6 linked regions of the Homo sapiens genome follow. The protein of the gene in region 1 purifies or fractionates together with the protein of each later gene. This does not show direct contact. Each region holds a gene or a part of one and is shown on either strand. Other genes may lie near its edges.

The links.
Region 2: the proteins of PRKCQ (region 1) and MEF2A purify together in Homo sapiens (co-immunoprecipitation; one study listed by IntAct). This does not show direct contact.
Region 3: the proteins of PRKCQ (region 1) and MALT1 purify together in Homo sapiens (affinity purification with western blotting; one study listed by BioGRID and IntAct). This does not show direct contact.
Region 4: the proteins of PRKCQ (region 1) and FYB1 purify together in Homo sapiens (affinity purification with western blotting, with the first as the bait; one study listed by BioGRID). This does not show direct contact.
Region 5: the proteins of PRKCQ (region 1) and CRY1 purify together in Homo sapiens (co-immunoprecipitation; one large-scale study listed by IntAct). This does not show direct contact.
Region 6: the proteins of PRKCQ (region 1) and LCP2 purify together in Homo sapiens (co-immunoprecipitation; one study listed by IntAct). This does not show direct contact.

The regions. Positions count from the first base shown.
Region 1 is NC_000010.11:6,479,260-6,482,882, forward strand, and holds part of PRKCQ (protein kinase C theta type), read right to left. Parts: intron 1-3,623. UniProt on the Homo sapiens protein: Calcium-independent, phospholipid- and diacylglycerol (DAG)-dependent serine/threonine-protein kinase that mediates non-redundant functions in T-cell receptor (TCR) signaling, including T-cells activation, proliferation, differentiation and survival, by mediating activation of multiple transcription factors such as NF-kappa-B, JUN, NFATC1 and NFATC2.
Region 2 is NC_000015.10:99,568,910-99,572,532, forward strand, and holds part of MEF2A (myocyte-specific enhancer factor 2A), read left to right. Parts: intron 1-31; exon of another isoform or gene 32-70; intron 71-3,623. UniProt on the Homo sapiens protein: Transcriptional activator which binds specifically to the MEF2 element, 5'-YTA[AT](4)TAR-3', found in numerous muscle-specific genes. Also involved in the activation of numerous growth factor- and stress-induced genes.
Region 3 is NC_000018.10:58,733,895-58,737,517, forward strand, and holds part of MALT1 (mucosa-associated lymphoid tissue lymphoma translocation protein 1), read left to right. Parts: exon of another isoform or gene 1-86; intron 87-412; coding exon 413-487; exon of another isoform or gene 488-493; intron 494-1,307; coding exon 1,308-1,435; intron 1,436-3,623. UniProt on the Homo sapiens protein: Protease that enhances BCL10-induced activation: acts via formation of CBM complexes that channel adaptive and innate immune signaling downstream of CARD domain-containing proteins (CARD9, CARD11 and CARD14) to activate NF-kappa-B and MAP kinase p38 pathways which stimulate expression of genes encoding pro-inflammatory cytokines and chemokines.
Region 4 is NC_000005.10:39,209,503-39,213,125, reverse strand, and holds part of FYB1 (FYN-binding protein 1), read left to right. Parts: intron 1-108; exon of another isoform or gene 109-448; intron 449-2,034; exon of another isoform or gene 2,035-2,068; intron 2,069-3,623. UniProt on the Homo sapiens protein: Acts as an adapter protein of the FYN and LCP2 signaling cascades in T-cells. May play a role in linking T-cell signaling to remodeling of the actin cytoskeleton. Modulates the expression of IL2. Involved in platelet activation.
Region 5 is NC_000012.12:107,020,463-107,024,085, reverse strand, and holds part of CRY1 (cryptochrome-1), read left to right. Parts: intron 1-1,893; coding exon 1,894-2,002; intron 2,003-3,623.
Region 6 is NC_000005.10:170,266,751-170,270,373, forward strand, and holds part of LCP2 (lymphocyte cytosolic protein 2), read right to left. Parts: intron 1,733-3,623; coding exon 1,635-1,732; intron 326-1,634; coding exon 259-325; intron 142-258; coding exon 58-141; intron 1-57. UniProt on the Homo sapiens protein: Adapter protein primarily involved in signaling pathways within T-cells, as well as other immune cells such as platelets, mast cells, and natural killer (NK) cells.

The sequences.
Region 1 (3,623 bases):
GGAAAAGGGGTTCCTTCTCCAACCCCCATCCATCCTGCATAGGCCATTCCTGAGACAAAATGGAGCACTTCTCTGGTTTCGGACATGACATCACTATTTCATACTATCTTTGTACTCTTTCCAAGGGTTCACAAAATTATTAAGCAATTGAATGGATTTTTAAAAGTGTGCCCTGCCTGCTCAGGGATCTGAGTGAAGGTACAATAAAAATCCAGAGAGATAAAGTGCACAGTGAAGAAAGAAGAGTTGAGTGTGGAGAGGAGAAACTGTACTCGAAACATCACTGCAAGTGCACATAAATCCTAGCTTTACGTTTTACCCAGTTTTTCCAGGCCAAAAGAAGAATGGAGGGATATAGTTCTCCTTGTGTACTTAAAAAATAAACACCGGCCAGGTGCGGTGGCTCAAGCCTATAATCCCAGCACTTTGGGAGGTCAAGGCAGGCAGATCATCTGAGGTTAGGAGTTCGAGACCAGCCTGGCCAACATGGTGAAACCCCGTCTCGACTAAAAAAAAAAAAAAAAAAAAAAAAAAAATCCAAAAATTAGCCGGGCATGGTGGTGGGTGCCTGTAGTCCCAGCTACTCGGGAGGCTGAGGTGGGGAATTGCTTGAACCTGGGAGGCGGAGGTTGTGGTGAACTGAGATCATGCCACTGCACTCCAGCCTGGGCGTCAGAGTGAGACTGTGTCTCAAAATAAAAAAAAATAAATAAGTAAACACCATTTTCTCTGACAACACAGCAATGAATTATTCATAGCAGAATGTATGGCATGTAGTAGGTCCTAAAATGTGACTGACACTGGGTTCAAAGGATAACTTGCTCAGATTCTTCGAGCTACTAGGGAAAGATTTAACTCCGAAGTTTACTTTCCCACTTGATTTCGTGGCTCTCGTATCAAAGGACACCAAAATGGGAATGAAACATTTTAGGACCTACTGTGTGTCATACACTCTGCTACCTACTTTACACTTACGACCTAATTGTATTATCTAATTTAATTCTTAGCTCATCACACTCTGCAAGACAGAAGTTAACAACATCAACAACAAACACTGAGTTCAAAGAATAACTTGCTCAGATTCTTGGAGCTATGAGGGAAGATTTAACTCCAAAATCTACTTTTCCCACTTGATTTTGTGGCTCTTATATCAAAGGACACCAGATGGCATATGATGGAGGGTTTCAACAATTTTAGTTTTTGCAAATGATGCAGCAACACACTGTTGGCAATGGTAAGGGCATGGCATTTGGATACAGAAAATTCTAGCTCTAGTTTTATTTCACAGACATTTATTAGCTGTGGAAATGTGGGCAGATGAATTAGCCCCTCTGGGCTTCAGTTTCCAATTACTACTGCATTCTCTAACTTACAGGACTGTTGTGAAAGTCAGGTAAGATGAGACCTGGGAAAGTAGACTCTAAAATGATCTCTGAATCACAGTTGCTAAAATTCAGTCATTTGTCATTTGTTTCTGTTATTGACTTTTGGGAAAGGCCGAAGTCAATGATGTGACAACAGCCCTGAACATGTAAGTGTCTAGGTTTAAAAGCGACGGAGCAGGTTCGTAGCTTGATGGTAGCTGACTTGATAGAAGGGAAGGGATGAAACTTAGATGGGAATTCAGGCAAATGAATGATGCTCACATCCCCAGAGAACACACAATTTGTTTTCTTAGGCTTAAAATTTGTTTGAGAACAAGGGTATAGAGGTCTTGGTGAGGAAACATACTTTCCACATAAAGCCAGAAGAGAGAGAAAAGACAAGTTTTGGAGTATTCTCAGTGTTGTGAGAAAGAGAAACAGCCATCCTGTCTTGCTTTGATATCTCCCCCTCCTCTCCTCTCCGTGTATAGGGACCCAGGGTCCTGATGAAAAGAAGTAGACAGCTTTGGACATGGAGTGGGGGAAACCTGGGGCTCCCAGCTGCACCTTGGGATACCGACTAAGGCTTGTAGGTTTAACTTAATGTCTTCCTTATTAACCTTATTCAAATGTGGAAATCCACATGGGAACAAAGAAAGATAAACATTTCATTAACAATTAAAAGTCCTCTTTTAGTAATTGCTTCTTTCAGTAAAACACCCTAAAACCAGCCATAAACTAAGAAGCCAAAAAGACAATTTCCATCTATATAATGTGCTTTCAATTTTTGGTAACAGGTTATAATTGCACATTAATTGCTGCTAAATTACAATGAAGACTGGCTGTAACATTGCCTATTATGCTCAGATTAGCACCAAATGAGCCTACTGTGGTTCATATTATTGTGGAACTGAACAAAAAGAATTCCTGAATATCAGCTACCATGTGCTGGACAGAGTCGATTCTGCTGAAAGGCAAGGCATCAGTGTTTAAATCCAAACCCCAAATGGAGCTCAATATTATTCAGCTGTGGTGACCGCTCAGTTGCATTTTAGTTTGTTTAATATTAAATAAACTGGGTAAGACATCCTGCCAAAGTCTGGTGAGCAGTTGTGGTGTATAATGCTGCCTTTGGCTGCACAGATTCATAGAACAGTCATCTCTGATTAAAATTTTCCTGGGAGTCCCATCCAAGAATGTAAAACAAATAGGAGCCCCGTTAATACATGAGATACCCTTAATATCAAAAATTACCTAAAAGCCTATATTCCATATCATCCCTCCTTAAATCACCAGCTTGAAAATTTTCTGCAGTCACCGGTAGTTGGTTATAATTTCTTAAATTATCTCTTCTTCCTTCTTCTCACCTCCCCTTTTTTTTTTTTTTGCTCCTCCTCTCCCTCTTTCCTTCCTCTCCTTGTCATCTGTGAGTGATGGAGACAACCCCCCACCTGCATGTATGGCAGGAAGAATTTAGAGGAGGGACTTTCTCCACAATTTTTTTCCAGGACTCTCAAGCTACAGTTTTCTTATGGGCTGAATTGTGTCTATACTGAAGTTCCAATCCCCAGGACCTTGGAAAGTGACTGTATTTGGAGACAGGACCTTCAAAGAGGTAATTAAGGTTAGATGAGGTTATTAAGGCAGGTCCTAATCCAATATGACTGGTGTTTTCACAAGAAGAGAAAATTTAAGCAGAGTGTGGTGGCACAACTGTAATCCCAGCTACTAGGGAGCTGAGACAGGAGGATCACTTGGGTTCGGGAGGTCAAGACCAGCCTGGGCAACACAGTGAGACGTCATCTCAAAAAAGGAGAACACTTGGATGCAGACATGCACAGGAGGAAGATGATATGAAGGCATGGAGAGAGGGCGACCATTGCAAAGCATGGAGAGGGGCCTGGGAAGAAACAACCCAGACAACACCTTGATGGTGAACTTCCATCCTCCAGACCTGCGAGAACATGAATTTCTGCTGTTTAAGCCAGCCAGTATGTGAGATTTTGTTATAGCAGCCTGTATTAGTCTGTTATCACACTGCTAATAAAGACATGCCCGAGACTGGATAATTTATAAAGGAAAGAGGTTTAATGGACTCGGTTCCACACAGCTGGGGAGGCCTCGCAATCATGGTGGAAGACAAAGGAAGAGCAAAGGGACGTCTTACGTGGTGGCAGGTGAGAGGGCATGTGTAGGGAAACTCCTCTTTATAAAATCATCAGATCTCATGAGACTTACTCACTATCATGGGAACAGCAC
Region 2 (3,623 bases), on another chromosome or scaffold:
ACCAAAAATGATCACTATTTCTTTTTTCTAGATAAGAAAGAAAATCTGTGGATTCTTAGTAAATGGAGAAGTGAGTGCCTTCTCTCCTAATGTTTAAATAATAAGTGTAAATATGGAAATCAGATCACCCTTTAAGCTGGATAACCTCGTGCAAGAGAATGCTTTTAACATATGCTGATTTGCAAGCCCCAGTAAAGGAAGGCTGCTTGACTCTGTAGTCAGATCTTGATTCAGATCCAGCTCCACTGCTGACAGAGTTGAGATATCTCCTGTAAAATGAGATAGAATTACACTACCTGCCCCGTGTTGGAATTAAATGAGATAGCGAGTGTAAAAGTTCTAACACACTGCGTGAAGCTTCATGTGCGAAAATGCGTATTGCCTGATCTCCCTGCATCCCTTCTGGCTTTTGTTTCTTCTTTCCTCTGAAGATTATGTAGGTACCCTGCCCAGTACCCATACGTTTAGTGTTTGTGACCAAAAGGATTTCGTATAATGTATCAATAGAGAATGCTTAATGTGTTTGTTTTGGATAAAATATCCCAGCATCTTAAATTCATTGTCAGATTATACATAAAACGCTTAATTGGCTGTTTTAAAACATTAGAATTTTGATCTTCAACCATAGTTTGTTTCTAATCTCCATAATCTCCCCAAATATTTTTCTAAAGATTCAAGTTAAATATAAATAGTTTCCCAATCTTCAGTGAATTCTGTCTTTTAGGGATTGACTGTGGGAGTGGTCTCTAAGATATAGTATTTGAAATTTAAAGTTAGAAGAATACTTCTGTAATCTACCTTGAATAGGTATTTTAAAATAGCTTAATTTCTGAAGAAAAGTTTTTAAATATTTTAATATTGAAGGTTATTTTAATATTTTAAAGTAACTTTAGTTAATCTGTAATTTTTAAAATACTTTGATTTGGTGTGAAATTAATGATTTTCTCGTGTATAGTTTATCTGTGTGCCTTATAATAAATGGACCTTGTGTCCAGTTTATTATAATTAAGAGTGTAAATCCATTTGTTAATTAGTAAATCTTACACATAGCACACGATATAGGTTGGTACTTATTTAATAAGTACTAAATTTTTATATAGATGCTTTATACTTTAATAATATTTATATTTACAGAATTTAATTGATATTTACTGAATTTAATATTTTAATTATTAATTATCTTAGTCGAGATGAAATCATAAGCATATGAGTTAAAAATATTAGCTCCTTTGTGAGGTGGAATACCATATTTAAACATTGGTGTATGAAGGCAGGTAATTTACTTCATCATTATTTTAACAAGTGATGTTGATAAAAGCCAGAGGAACAAACATGGGTGAAAAACATATTAATTAATCAAACTTCTAGTAAATACCAACCCGGGCATGTCTTTTTATGGTTGTCTTGAATTAATACTAATTTTACTTCCTTACACAAAAATACAAACTTCAAAAACAAAATAAACAAGAAAACATGAAAACATAAAAAGGAAACAAAGCAAAAACAAAACAAAAACCTTTAATATATGGACTTAAAAAAATTCTCACCATTATTAAAATTATATGCTTGAGAAAGGTTTTCAGTAGTGGTCAGTAAGTTTATACTGCATGAGCTGGACATTTTTACTTTGTTACTTGCGTGACCAGCAGCATGCATGTGCAGGTTGACGTGGATTCATTTGAGGCATGATTTGTGACACTTGGAACAAAGGGCTGCTTCCCATTCGACCTGGTAAAAGAAATTGTAACTTTTGGGCTTAATAAAACAAGCGGCTCTTGCATTGACTAATACTATATTTGCCTGTTTCACCTCTCGTCCTCATCCTTAGCTGTCCATCTTCTACATAGAAATTGGAATTATATTTCTAAAATTCAGATCTATATGTCATTTCTTCTTAAAGAAAAAAAAAAAAACAACTTTTGAAGGCGTATGAGATCAATAGAGTGGCAGTAATGTAAGGGATAGAAGATTGGCCTGTAAAATCAGACTTCCTGGCTGGGCGCGGTGGCTCATGCCTGTAATTCCAGAACTTTGGGAGGTGGAGGCGGGCAGATCACCTGAGGTCGGGAGTTTGAGACCAACCTGGCCAACGTGGTGAAACCCCGTTTCCACTAAAAATACAAAAATTAGCCGGGCATAGTGGCTCACACCTGTTATCCCGCCACTCTGGAGGCTTAGGCACGAGAATCGCTTGAACCCAGGAGGCAGAGGTTGCAGTGAGCCGAGATCGTGCCACTGCACTCCAGCCTGGGTGATAGAATGAGACTCCATCTCCAAAAAAAAAAAAACAACAACAACAACAACAGACTTCCCATCCTAAGTTAAAATACCCACTGTTCTTACTGTGTTCTTATTTAGTTACTTGCACTTTGTGTTCTTCAGCAAGTTCTTATGATTTTTGAGGCTTAGTGTATAAAATAGTAATTATAACATTATTTCATACAGTTTTTGAGAGGATTAAATGAGGTGTGTATTATAAAGTGCAGTGCCTGGTATATAACCTGCATTAATTTTCCTCCTACCATTACTATCGTTACTACTACTGCTATTGCTGTTAGTCATGGCTCACTTTATAATATGATTCCATCGTGTCTTTTGAGGCTCATTTTCAGCCATCACCTTTCAGTTTCTATGCCCTAGTCAAAGCCAGCTATTAGCGCTAATCTGAAAAGGCCATATGTTTTCATACTGATGACTACTACTTTTATTTTCCCAGCCCAGACTTCTCTTGAGTTTGATATTCACTTGGAAGTCTAGTTGGAATCTCAAGTATAATATAAATGATGTGGGTAAAATATAGCTATTTTTCCCTCTTCCCCCAACCTTCTTCCTACCCCTAAACCCTGGTGTCTCTGCTGGCATTCCCCATATCCATAAATGGCAGTACCCAAGCCAAAAACTTAAGATATTATTCTTGATTCTTTCCATTTCTCTTAAGTCCAATCCATCCCCACGTCCTGTTGCACCTTCACAATTTGCCTTGAGCAGTCCACTGCTCTTAGTCTTCGTTGCCACCTCTTTATTTGAAGCCATCATTCTCTTGCATGAAGTACTGCAGTAATTTTCTAAGTGGGCTGCTTCTTTTTCTTCTTGCTCCATAGAAGTTTTTTTTTTTTTTTTTTTCTTCACACAGCAGCCTGAGAATTATTTTAAGAGCCTATATTGGATCATATCATTTCTCTGCTTAAAATCTTCTGGTGACTTCCCATTCCTCTCAAAATCAAGTCCTCCATTCTGTGGCCTAAATGGCCCTGAATGAGCTTTCTCCTTCTCATCATTCTTCCCCTCATTCATCACATGTCAGCCACGAAGGCCTCTCAGTGTTTCTTAAACCCTCTGCACCCTTTTTTCTTCTAGGGCCTTTTGCACTTTCTGTACTCCCTCCTTGGGATATTCTTCAAATGTCTGGCTTGGCTAAACACTTTGGAGTTTGGCCCAAATCTCACTTCTCACTCAGAGGCCTAATCTGACCATCCTATTTAATATTGCAGTCTGTCATTTTACTCTCTTACACAGATTATTTCCTTCAAGACAATTGTAATTTGTGTATACCTGGTTTGTTTAGTTATTGCTTATTTATGGTATTTGTCCATTACCTGAATGTAAACTCCATAAAGGCAGAG
Region 3 (3,623 bases), on another chromosome or scaffold:
CAACACCCATGGAGTTGGGATCTCTGCTCACTAGTCAGTCCTGGTCTTCCAGACATGGAATGAGTAGCCGAAGCAGATGTTTGGAGGTTTGGATCCCATTTGTCTGCCATTGCCTTTCTAAGGAGTAGAACCAATGACTGTTCCTCTAGATTTACTATTTTTTTGCTTGCTCAGCATTTACCAATCAAAATCCAATGCCAGAGTTCAAATGCAACTCTAGTTTTAAAGCTAACAAGGAGTTAGTGGGTTATTTTGGGTAGATATGTAGCTACCTAGATGAAAAATTTTGAATCTATAATTTTAAATTATGTATTCTAAAAAACTGTTGTATTTTCTCATTATTTATACCCTTTTAAGAATGCTCTTTAACTTTTCATATTTCTATCTGCCCTCCTCCGCCTCCCTTAAATAGAAATGACTACGATGATACCATTCCAATCTTGGATGCACTAAAAGTCACCGCCAATATTGTGTTTGGATATGCCACGTAAGAACATTTGATGTTTACGTTGAAGTTTCCTTTATTGTTTGATGTCTTTTTGTTTTTGCTTTTTAGGAGCAGGGGTCTTAACTCTGTCACCCAGGCTGGAGTGCAGAGGCGCCATCATAGCTCACTGCTCCTGGGCTCAAGCGATCCTCCTGCCTCAGCCTTCTGAGTCGCTGGGATTACAGGCATGTGCCACTGTGCCTGGCCCCTGAGGGTTTTTTGATTATAGATTAGAGGCCTAGAAAATACCTATAGACATGTAGGCATAAATTTACCTCCTTGATATTCTGCGTAGAAAATTTTAAATGATCGACTTTAGCATTCCATATCATGGTATCTTAATTATTAAGCCCAAATTGGGCATGTAATTCCTGCTTAAAGATTAACTCTTTAATTATCAATGTCATGTGAGAGGCAGAAGAGAAAATGAAGCTTATTGGTGTATACAGAAGTCCCATGTGGCAAGTGTTTGCTTTTCTAACATTTTCTTTTTAAAAAATTATTTTTATTGGATATTGACAAGTTATAATTGTATGTATTTATGGGATACAAAGATATGCTATGATGTACGTATTCAATGTGGAATGATTGAATCAAGATAATTCACATATCACCTCAAATACTTATCTTTTTTCCTAACTGAAACATTGTACCCTGTGACTAACAGTCCCCACGCTGTCCCCACCCCCCCCCAGCCTCTGGTAACCACCATTCTGCTGGGTGCTTCTCTGAGTTCATTTTTATTAGCATCCACATATAAGTGAGAACATACAGTATTTGCCTTTCTGTGCCTGGCTTAACTTCTTTTTCTATTTTTAAGGTGTCAAGGAGCAGAAGCTTTTGAAATCCAGCATTCTGGATTGGCAAATGGAATCTTTATGAAATTTTTAAAAGACAGATTATTAGAAGATAAGAAAATCACTGTGTTACTGGATGAAGTTGCAGAAGGTAAAATAAAAAATAAAGAGAAAAGTACTCAGAAAAAGGAGAGCAGGGGAGACACACCTATTCAGGGTTCCCTCTCTGGTGATTGTTTTATTCTTATTATGTGGGTTTGGAATTAGTACCTACTTTATAAAACAATTTTTATATTAATATAACGTTCAGCAACACTTCTGCTATTTAATGTCATCTTTCCTTCCCTTTTGACCTAGCTCTCCACCATCTGTGCAGCATTACTCAGACTACAAGGCTAAGCCTCGGCACAGTCATTAATAAAGTTGAATTCTCAGAGCTCTACTTTGCTTCTATGCCCAGTGCCTTGGTACTGGCAAATCTCCCTATTTGAGGGTGGGTGGGTGGCATGGAGGGGTGGTGGGGAATTGTCCAGTGAGCAGTCTCTCCCAGGATGGGAGAGAGAAAACTTTACAGAAATTTTTAGACACTGCTGGGAAAAGCTGAGTTCATTTTTTTCCCTGATGAACTTAGTAGTTTTTAAATCCTGATTTAAGGATGTGATCCTAGGGGGTCTAATGCCACATCTTCCATTTCTATCTGTTCTCCCTGCCTGCTGGTATAATGCTGTGCATATGTCAGATGCTGAACAAGTACCTATTATTTCAGTAGATTGCACTGTGTTTTTTGAAAAAACATTTTATAAGCCATAGCAAAAAGAAGGTAACTTGGCCAGGTATGGTGGCTCAAGCCTGTAATCCCAGCACTTTGGGAAGCTGAGGCAGGAGGATCACTTAAGGCCAAGAGTTCAAGACCAGCCTAGGCAACATAGCGAGACCCTGTCTTCAAAATAAAAAATAAAAATAAAAAAGAAGAAATTATTTTACAAACTAGCACCACTAGAAAATGGAGTTTCATGGATGTTCCAGTGATGGCAGTTTGGGTATAAGGTGTTTGACCAACTGTCAGCCATATTTATTTTCATGTTTTTATCTGTGTAGCTATTTTAGATCACTTGACTTAGCCACTTTTCCATTTAACATAACCAGCCAGGGCTTTGGACTTCCTGCCACCCTCCCGCTTCATCCAGAGAAGTTCCACTTTTATTTGTTTTCTACATTAGGCTTCTTCTGAAGCTTACATTTGAAGGAAAGGCTCTGCTGCTTTAAAAAAAAAAAAAGAAAGAAAGAAAACCTTTGGATTATGTCAGTTATATTCAAACTGAGATCCAGTAAGGTGCTCCAGAAACTCTACAGTGTTTTATTTCAATTTCGTTTTTAAGTCCATTTTAACTATTTTAAAACTTAATAAAAAGCACCATGCTCACTCACATATGATATTTACCAAATTGTCATAGCAATGAATGGCATCCCGATATGTGCTGTGAGGATATTTGAACTTCTTATAAACATCTTAGACAGTTTTGCTTTTCGCTGATCTTTTTCAGTCCTACCATGTCTGCTTAACCAGAATTGCCCAGGCAGGAAGACCCTGTAGTGTACATGGAGCACACTCAGCTCAGTGCCGTGCACATTGTGCCCTTCGTGGGTAACGGCCCACTCATTGTACAAAATAAGTAAAGGCCTAATAGTATCATGATAAATAATACAGTTAAATCTAGCCCTTATTTTGAGTTTTGGATGCTTTGTGTCTGACCCCTGTCTTAGTAGTAAAGAGCAAAAGTAGTTGTATGAAATTTTTCACAAGTCATCCAATTTTGAAACAAAACTTTGCTGTTTCTCCCTTTGGATCTTCCAGATTACTTAATTGAAACTCATTCCATGGCTGGGCATGGTGGCTCACACCTGTAATCCCAGCACTTTGGGAGGCTGAGGTAGGAGGATTGCTTGAGCCCAGGAATTCAAGACCAGTCTGGGCAACACAGCAAGACCCCATCTCAATTTAAAAAAAAAATTATTTGGGGCCAGGTACAGTGGCTCATGCCTGTAATCCCAGCATTTGGGGAGGCTGAGGCAGGAGAATCACTTGAACACAGAAGTTTGAGACCAACCTAGGCAACATTGTCAGACCCCCCATCTCTATAAAAATTTAAAAAATTAGCCAGGCATTATGGTGTGCACCTGCAGTGCCAGCTACTCGCGAGACTTAGGTGGGAGGATTGCTCGAGCCTGGCAGTTTGAGACTGTAGTAAGTATGACCACACCACTGCTCTCCAGCATGTGTGACAGAGCAAGCCCCATCTCAAAAAAAAAAAAAAAGAAAATTCCAGAGGGAGAAAAGT
Region 4 (3,623 bases), on another chromosome or scaffold:
TTATTAGTTTAATAATGAAATTAGGAATGGGTATAAACTACTAAACTCTAGAATTTCTTGATAATTATATGAGTATATGTAGAGTTGGGTTTTTTTTTTTTTTGGCAGGGGGCGTGTAAAGGTGATTTGTTCGCCAAGAAAAGCACTTTTAGTAAAGCACAGATGTTAATCTAGATCATGGAAAAGTGCCACACACTAGATTTAGCACATAAGCAAGGAGTCTCTAGAACACTCAGAAGAAAATGAATGAATCCATGAATGAATGGACAAGTGAGAGCCCAGAGCAGCTGAAGCCATGAAGTGCTTTGGAAAGAGAAGCGTGCCTGGGAAAAGAGAGTGGCTGAGTGCTAAGAGCAGGGTGAACACCATGGAAAACTTGAAATTGAAAACATCACAATTTTAATGAGAAAAAGCGCAACCCAAAGTGAAGAGCACCATTATAACAAAGGTGAGAAAAGATGCTCATCTTATGACAGAGTCTTGTTTCTGTGCAGTTATCAGAAAAAGTGAGCTAAGAGGTGTGATGTGCTTATATTGTTTAATCCTGATTACTAAATACCAAATGCGTTTTCTTCAAAGCTCTAAAGGAGAAGAAATGGAATGGGAACAAGGGGGAGGGTTGAGGGCAGGGAGGATATCCCACATTGTCATATTCCTTAGAGTAAGGTTTCAAAATATTATCTATTTCTCTTTGTGGAATCTTCCATAGCTTTCCATTTCTAATGTATAGCTTTCACTTTCCTCAAATCGAACTCTGGATCTCTCATTGACTAGAAGCTGCCACATGCCTTTTTTTATTTTTTATTTTTTATTTTTTTGAGACAAGGTCTTGCTCTGTCACCCAGGCTAGAGTACAGTGGTGCATTCATGGCTCACTGCAGCCTTGACCTCCCGGGCTCAAGCAATCATCCCACCCCAGCCTCCAGAGTAGCTAGGACTACAGGCACTCACCACTGTGCCTGGCTAATATTGCATATTCTTTTGTAGAAATGAGGTCTTGCTTTGTTGCCCAGGCTAGCCTCAATCACCTGGCCTCAAGCAATCCTCCTGCCTCAGCTTCTCCAATTGCTGGGATTACAGGCCTGAGCCACCCATTGTGCCCAGCTGCTGCCACCTGTCTTGGTTAGCTCGTTGAGTTCTTCCTCTTCTTAGCAGTTTTCACACAGATCTTTTCACATGCTGGGAAGGAAGTCTCTAGAAAACCCCACAGATAGCCTCATTCCTCCACCCCCACTTCACTCCATGTAGACAATAAGCTTTCAGTTTCTAACATCATGTTGAGTGTAGAAAAGAAATTTACCACCCAGGAGCGTGTGTCTGTGTCTGTCTATGTTTTCGTGTTTGTTGGGAGTGACACGAAGGCTGAGGGAAAAAATAAAGCATAACATTTCTATTTTTCGCTTGACAAACAGTATCTTTCCCAGACATCAAAGATTTTTATTTCAGACTTCAAATGTCCTTAGCAAAATAAAGTTTTTGTTGGGGTGTACATGAAAATAGAACAACCATAAGAAATAGGCCGGGCGCAGTGGCTCACGCTTATAATCCCAGCACTTTGGGAGGCCGAGGCAGGCGGATCAAGAGGTCAGGAGATCTAAACCACGGTGAAACCCTGTCTCTGCTAAAAATACAAAAAATTAGCCAGGCGTGGTGGCGGGCGCCTGTAGTTCCAGCTACTCGGAGAGGCTGAGGCAGGAGAATGGCGTGAACCTGGGAGGCGGAGCTTGCAGTGGGCCGAGATCGCGCCACTGCACTGCAGCCTGGGCGACAGAGCGAGACTCCGTCTCAAAAAAAAAAAAAAAAGAAAAGAAAAGAAAAAGAAATAGTAGCTGAAATTTAGGTCTCTCTTTGAGGTTGGAGGAACAGAAAAAATGAAAGAACTTATATTGTATTATGAAGTGTACATCAACTATTAGCCTAAGAACCAAATAAGCCACTAATAAGATATCTATGAAAACATTTTTCAATTATCTACAAGTTCGTTAGTCAAAATGTAAATTCCTGAAAAACTGTTTTCTAATTTGGTATTTTCAGGTCATGCAGGCTGAGTGAATTATCCTAAACAAATGTAAGTTAAATTTGCTATAAAAAATTGTAAAATAGAATAAGAAAAATAAGTGGTTTTAGGACCATTTGTTGTTCTGTACTATCTACATCTCACTCTATATTCTCTACATCCTATCGCCATTCTATCCACATCAAGAACTCAAAAACATATAGCAAAACAAACCTCAGAAACACATAGAAACTCATATATATTTATATGTATGTATTTATACTAGAGACAGGCTCTCGCCACGTTGCTTAGGATGAACTCAAACCCTTGGGCTCAAGCGGTCTTCCCACATCAGCCTCCTGAGTAGCTAGGACCACAGGAATGCACTATCATGCCTGGCTAGAAAGTCGTATTTAACTTCCTTATCCATTTATGCTTAAGCCCTCAGAGGCCATGGCAAAGTCAAAACTATTTGTACAGGAGCTATTTTGTAGGATAACCAGGAAAAGAACATTGAAGGTTCGAATTTGTAGAATGATGATGATTGTCCCGCTCCTGATTCTAAAAACAGGGGGTACACAAAAATCCAACTGATGCACATGCCTTATAGAGAATACAAGGCGCCAGCATTTGGGAGGTGGACCATCACCATCAAAGCTTTACTACTTGCTAGGCTATCTTGCTTCTTCTGCTCTAATTCACTCTGGAAGAGAGAACACAGTAGAAACAGGAGAAGGATCCGGATCATCAGTGCTCGGAATAACACCAGACCAGGAGATAATGCACAGCGATATCTGTGGTGGTTTTTCTGCCAAGGTCCGAGGGGACCTGGCGGGGCACACACACCACCCAGAAAGTCCCCATTTAAGTCAGGTGTTTCCTTCCACATGACACCTCACAATGCAAGGCCATAGCAGACAGGGCATCGCTGGGGTTGTTGCAGTTCCACCTCCACCTTCACAAGTTACTGAAAAACATACAGGGGTTGTCACAATCAGGGCTACCACCGCTGCTTCCGCCACCAGGTCCTCCTACCCATGCCTTCGCCCAGAGCCTGCAGCAAAGGGCTCCCGCCCCAAGAACTTAATTTGCGGCGAGAGTCAAGTTCCCACATCCTGTTGAAGAGGGGCCTGGTGCTCTCTCCAGCCTCCGAGGCTCAGCCCACTGGAATGCATCACAGCCCATTTGCAATGAAATAGATATTCAATTGGCAAGTGCTTAAATCACAACTGCAGGTCAACAAAGGAGCTAAGAAAATCATCTCCTCCACTCCCATCTGTATGACCAATCAAGGTGAAATTTAAGTAAACGCAGTCCATCAGCCAGTACGTTCAATGCATATTATGGAAAGAGATGCGCCAGGATCAGGGATGTGTCTGCTTGTTTGCCGGGGAGGGAATTGCTGTTGAGGAGGAAAAATAAAACCAGGTTCCTGCTTTTACATCTCCTTAGGGAAACAGAGAACACACATGTAAATTATAATTCATTAAGAATCTAAATAGGCCGGGTGCGGTGGCTCACGCCTGTAATCCCAGCACTTTGGGAGGCTGAGGCAGGTGGTGGATCACCTGTGGTCAGGAGTTCAAGACCAGCCTGGCCAACATGGTGAGACCCCATCTCTATTAAA
Region 5 (3,623 bases), on another chromosome or scaffold:
TTAAGAAAACTTAAAATTGCTAGTTCTTTCAACTTCTTAATTTTTGATCTGTGTAAAAACCCTTCGATCTTTGTTCTGTCTAGTAACTCTTCTTGCCAAGCAAATACATAAAATTAGATGCTTCCCAATAAACATTTGTCACCAGACATGATAAATTATTCATAGTTGGAGATAATTTTATTAAACTCCAATGCTTTTATATCACTATCCATCTAACAACAACAGTCTTCTCCCCTGAAATATTTGTACATTGGTAGTGGTGGGTTAGGATGGGGATCAGGTGTTAGGGAGGTGACTCCAAACCAAGGCAGAAAAGGGATGTGATAAAATATAAATGTGGGGATAGAAAGGTTTGCTTCCTACTTGGAAACCCATGAGACTTCCTAAGGTGAAATGGTGGGATGTCTTTAACATCCTCATAAAAATATAGCACCTTGACTCTTCAAGCTGTACAGATGGTGCTCCTAAAGAGGAAGAAGTGTCAGACCTGACTAGTGCACTTATGTCACTAATAACTACAGTTGTAAAAAATCAACAAGACTTATTTGGTGAAATGATGGTATCGGAATGTGTAAAGCGAACAAAATGATCTAGACCAAGCAGCTTTTTAGAACAATCTGTCCAGTAGAACTTTCTGCAATGATGGAAATGTTCTGTAGCTATACTGTTCAGTATGGTAGCCAGCCACCAGCTATACATGTGGCTGTTGAGGACTTGAAATGTGGCAAGTGTGACTAAGGAACTGATTTTTAAATTTAACTAACTTAAATTTAAATGGCTACATGTGCCTTTTGGTTACCATATTAGATAGTGCACTTCTAGAATTTGCATTTCCCTGCTTCTTAATCACTCCTCTTCACAAGTAAGAGATAATTGCTATTCTGAAAGACCATGTGGCCTGTGAAAAAGGCAGACAAATACTTAACCTTGAGATCAAAAACATAAAAGAAGCAAAATAGGAAATAAGATACGTCCAGCTGAAAAGAACAGAATCTAAATGAAACTTAACATGAGTCAAATAATAAGATTGGACCTTCCATGGGTGACATCTCTTTTAAATTTGTTCTTGGGAATGTTCCATTTCTTCGCAACAGAAGATGCACAGTAAGCAGTCTTCTGGTACTGCCCCAGAATTTTCCTAGATATCTGTCATGTGTAAGCCTTGTTACTACTTATTTCATTGAAAAAGTCTATAATCTCCACCCCAACTCCATGAAACCTTTTCTTTTTTTTTTTTTTTAGAAGTTAATCTGGCATTTTCTACACTCAGGGAATTAATAACCACATAATTTGGCATCTACTTATTAGTTTCTTTTTTTAATAAATTAGAAACTTGAAAATGGGCATTATGATTTCAATCTCTTAAATGATTACAATATTACAAAAAAGTACTCATAATCTTTTTTTTTTGTCCCCTCAGATTCCTTTTTACCATGATATTCTTAAATTATTCACTTGCTTATTCATTACATAGGATGTTTCTGGTTTTTTCCCCCCAGCAGAAGATATTCTAGATTTTTCAAGTTTTCCTTTCTATATGAAAAGCCATTTTCATACAGAAAATATTTCATCAAGTTTAAACAATGAAACCAATTTAATTGCTTTGATACTTCTTTGTATGTTTTTATGTTCACAAATTAAATTTTTGCTAATAGTCACTTTTATTTAATGAAAATTAGTGATTTTATTCAGTATTTTATTAAAATACTAGGTAATTTGTGCTATAATTAAAAAATATATATTAGTATGGTTTTTGGAAAAAGTATATATCAATAGGAGGTAATAAGATGATAGGTTGGCATTTCAACTTTTAGAATAACATGACTTTGTAATAATTTATGTCTTCTAAATATGTATTTTTTAATAATTTAAATAATACTTTCTTCTCTCTAGATTTTTGCTTCAGTGTCTTGAGGATCTTGATGCCAATCTACGAAAATTAAACTCCCGTCTGTTTGTGATTCGTGGACAACCAGCAGATGTGTTTCCCAGGCTTTTCAAGGTAATTTGAAAAATATTTGCATAAAACAATCTTTTCTCAGATAATATTACATATTTGGTAAATAAAGTTTTTTGACTAATTGAAAATGTAGCGAATATAAGTATTTTCAAGTAAAAATTTTGTGGGTTTTTTTTCTTTATTTAATGAAAAAGCTATACATGGTAAAAATCAGACAGTGAGAAAATAGTTTACAATGAAAAGTTCAATCTTTCTTCTACCTTAAACTGCTCGTTGCCCTCCCAGAAGCAACAGCTACTACCAGTTTCTTATGTATCCAATTCCAGTTTCTTGTTTATCCAATTAGAAATATTCTTTGCATAAACAAGAATTTTTTGTGTGTGTATATATATATATTTTTGTGTGTGTGTGTGTATATATATATGTGTATACACACACACACATCCATGTGTTTGTGTCTGTGTTACTGTCCCCTTTGTTAAAAGTTAAAATGACACACTATACACACCATTCTCTGCCATGCTTTGTTCACATAACCATATCTTTTGGAAGTTGTTCCATATCATTTCCTCGGTCTTTCAGATGACTTCATAGTATTCCATTTTGTAGATGGCTATAATTTTTTAAACTAGCTTTCTACTGAACGTTTAATTATTTTCTCTGTAGGCCTTTTGCTAGTATAAATGCCAGTGAACTTACTTGTCCACATTTATGAATCTTTGCTCACATGGGCCAGTACATTTGTGGGATAATTCTTAGAAGACTTTCTGGGTCAAAGGATTGTAACAATGGACATTTTACCAATAATACAGAATTTGTAGTGCTTTTTTTTTTCTTTTTTTGAGATGGAGTCTTGCTCTTGTCGCCCAGGCTAGAGTGCAATGGCGCAATCTCAGCGCACTACAACCTCTGCCTCCTGGGTTCAGGTGATTCTTCTGCCTCAGCTTCCTGAGTAGCTGGGATTACTGGCGCACGCCACCATGCCTGGCTAATTTTGTACTTTTAGTAGAGACAGGGTTTCACCATGTTGGTCAGGCTGGTCTCGAACTCCTGACCTTAGGTGATCCACCGGCCTCGACCTCCCAAAGTGCTGGAATTAAAGGTGTGAGCCACTGCGCCCAGCACTGTAGTGCTTTTTAAAAAACTTAGTAGGATCTTAAAAATCTTTAAAAATGTTTAAGATACCTAATCTTATCTCTTCCCTTTTTTCCAAATGAAAAAATTAGGCCTAGAGAATAATTGAGTTGCCCAAGATCATACAACTAGCTCATGGAAATGCCCAGACCAGAAACTGAGTTTCCTCATTGCCCTTTTTGTATTCATCCCTTCCTATTTATTACTGTATTAGTCCATTTTCACATTGCTGCAAAGAAATATCTGAGACTGTATAATTTATAAAGAAAAGAGATTTAATTGGCTCACAGTTCTGCAGGCTGTACAGGAAGCATAGTGGCTTCTGGGAAGGCCTCAGGAAACTTACAATCATGGTGGAAGGGGAAGGGAAAGGGGAAGTAAGAACTTCACATGGCCAGAGCAGGAGGAAGAGAGAAGGAGCGGGGAGGTGCCACACTTTAAAAAAAACAAAAAACAAAAAAAAAAACAGATCTTGCAAGCACTCACTCACTATCAGAGCACCAAGGGGAAATCTGCCACCATGATCCAA
Region 6 (3,623 bases), on another chromosome or scaffold:
AAGCACTTTATAACAGCTTATCATTATTACTATGCATTAAATGTGAATCATACCCACCTAGTGTGAAGGGTTCTCTATCAAACGGAGCTAATGAACGATCTAGGGGAGGTTTCGTGCTTCTGTCTATTGAAGGAGCAGGGACTGGAAGGGGAAAAGGCTGACATCAATTAAAAGAAGAAAGCAGTCGGCTGGGGGTTGGGCGGGGCTAGGGGAGTGCCTGGTGGGAACAGGGCAAGAGAGAGCAGCCCTTGTACTCACGCTTTGCCGTTTTGTGGTTTCTGCTTCTGCTGGGTTCTTCGTGGTTGGTCTGGGGTGGGGGCAGTGGCTGCATAAAGATCCAAACGTTAGGAAGCACTTCCAATACATCAGCAAGAGCCGGCACTCCCAAAACCTGTCTGGATCTGCTCACTTTTCCTCATCTTCATGTTCTGCCTACAAACATCCATGTCCATTTCTTCACTGAACTACCGCAGTAGCCTCCTATCTGAGCTCCCTGTTCTAGACTCTGCCACGCAAGCTCTTTTCTGCAGGCAGCAGAGTGAGCATGTCACTTTCCTGCTAAGCCTCCTATCACATTAGAAACAAAATTGAAACTCGTTAATGTCCTGCGAGGCCCTGCCTGAGCTGGCCCATGTCTGCCCTCTCAACTCTTTCCTGTGATCCCTTCTCAGTACTCATGGGGTCCCTACCATAGAATCTTCTTGCAGTTCCTGGAAAATCTCAAGGTTATGCCCTCTTTGGCATCCCTACACTTGTTTCCTTCTGCCTAGAACGTTCTTCTCCCGGCTCTTCCCACAACTGGCTCATTCTGTCCCAGGTCCTTGTCACCTCCCCCCCCCATACCGTCATGTTACCTGGTCTTCCGTCCCCCGAACCACACATAACTACTCAAATGATCTCTTTCAGACATCTGTCTACCGTCTGATAACTAGCCCTAGTTGAGTTTTATGAAAGCAGGGACCTTATTTATCTTGTTCACACTTTATCCCCAACGCCTAGAACTCTGCTTGGCACATAGTAGCTGCTCAGACAATATTTGCTGATTAAATAAGTGAATCCTGCATCTCAAAAGAAGGTCTTCAAATCTCAAAAGCAATATACATCTGTAGATAAACTTGTGAAGGGAACACATTCCTAACTATCAAGTCCTTAGTCTGAGCTTCTCAGGGTCACTCTGGGAACTTATCAGATTCACAAGGACCGGGCTGTATGCTCGAAGAAGGAGAAAACGGGGTTTGCTACCTCTGTCTCCTCCGGTCTGAAGGCTCCTGTCCTTGGAATTTCAGGTGTCGGCCAGAAGGTGGCGCAAGTCTTTTTGCAGGAGAGAGGAAGGCTCGGTACCCAGGCAACACCAGTAGGTGCCACGGACTTAATTCGGTTCTCTTTGGGTTTATTTTACAGTTTTCACTTCTCTCAAATAGTGGGAAGTAAATAAAAACCACCAGTATTTTACCCCAAAAAAGAAACACGTGTGAATGCTTGGGTTTGCCTTTCCCCAGCCGAGGGAAAAGATTATAATCTTTTCTTACAAAATTAGAATGAGATAAAGATGTTTATAGTTTTATTTTTCTCTCTGGCGGAGGAAATAACTGCAGTGGACACCAAGTACTGTAAAAGAACGGGAGGAGGCCTACCGAGTGATTCCGGCCGGCTGGTGGGGGCGGGAGGGCGGCCATCGGTCTCTGGGGGGGCACAGGAGGCTGCTGGGGGGTTTTCCCAGAGGGGGGCCGGTCTGTGGAAACACAAGGTTATTAAAGTGAAAGGGGAGTATCGGCCAAGCTCAGGGGTCTCCAGGAACAGATATGCAGCTCGGGGCACCGGGGGTGCATGATCCTTGACCCCCAGGCCCACATGAGCCCCAGCCACGGGGAGACCCAGCCTGGATCTCACCCACCCCTCCCTGCCCATTTTTTCTGTCCTAGTTTGTGTCACTCTCCTTATACACAGGCTCAGCTTTCTTTGCATTTCACAGGAATAGGTATTTATCAGAGATTTTGCCAATCAAGAAAGGCCTCTTTGTAACCAGCTCAGCCAGAACTGGAAGGGAGGATTTTCAGACAATTTTGTAAGAAGTAAACATACGCATACCTCTGTATGCAGACACACAGATATACACATGTGCACACATGCATGCACACACATGCATATATATGCACACACCTGCATACACAGAGACACGAGTGCACACAGACACACACACATGCCAAAAATCTCACAGGCACACCCAGCTGCCTGTGCAGGGTGAAGTCAGCTCTCACTGCCATAGGGATCTTGTTCTGTCTGCCCTTCCTTCCCCTCTCCAGTGTCCTGGGCTATCTCCTCCCTGACACTTCCTCATTTTGCTCATCTCTTCCCATAAAGGGAGGAGCTGATCACCAACTTCTGTTACCAGACCACAGACTCTTAAGTGGAAGCTAGATTTGCCTCGAGCAGAAACTCACATTATCTGGGCAGAAACTCACATTATCCACATCTCCACGGAAGTGTCCCTAGGCCAGGTTGACAGGCTGGCAATTTCCTACCCCTTTGACAGGGAAAGGCCAGGACAAGACCATCAAGCAAGAGGGGTGAGTGGGTAGGGCCTCCTTACGCTTTGTGCCCTGGGTGCCTCTCTTGCCCGACTCTAGTCCCAGCCTTGGGGAGGTGCAGCTCTTCCACAGGGAAAAGGGTAGGAGCAAGGCCCAGCCTGATCTAATTCCACCCTGCTCCACCCGCACTGGCCATCTCTCAGCTTCTCTAATAGGCCATGCTCCTTTGAGCCTCAGGGCCTTTGCACAGCCATTTCTACTGCTCCAAATGTTCTTCCCTTACCACATCCATTTCCACTTGGCCAACTTGTATTTATCCTTTAACCTTGGTTTAATATCACAGCTTAAAGATACACCCTCAGGCAAACGCTCCAGCCTCATCTGTGCTTGTCTTCGTGCCTCTGTATCACGGTTTCACCAAGTAACCTCATGGCTCATTTGTTGGAGGGTGCGTCACCTGCCAGACTGTCAGTCCCTTGGCGAGGGCTGTCTTATTCACTCTGTATCTTAATGACTGGCACACACAAGGCACTCAACAACTGACTCATCCATTGCTTTTCCGGACCTCCACTTCCCTGTATATGAAACAGACTTGATCATGGTTGTCCTTATTACACAGATGTTTAAAAACCACCATGAGATATTGAGACAGCATTTTGTGAAAGGGCTTTAAAATGGAAATGGGTTATACCGCATAAAGGATTAAATGGTATTCGTTTTTTGTGGTACTGACCTTCAATTTTCAGCGTACTCTCTGAAAGTATATTATTTAAGAATATATTTGTTTATTTTCTGTCAACACCACTACTAGAATGTAAGCCCCAGGAGGCAGGGGCTATTTCTTCTTTCCTGATCATTTCTAAGCACTGAGAATGGGGCCTGGGCTCCCAGCAGATCAACAATGTTTGTTGAATGAATGGAGAGAGAAGTGGGCTAAAAGGACAGATAGACAATAAAAATCGTAAACACCATCTAATATTTTTTAAAGTTATAGTCAAACCCTACTCAATATCTTCATGTTTATTCTAGCATAATAATGCCATGTAACTATAATTTGGTCAAAAGATGGGGAGGAACAGGAAAGTACTCTTGGAG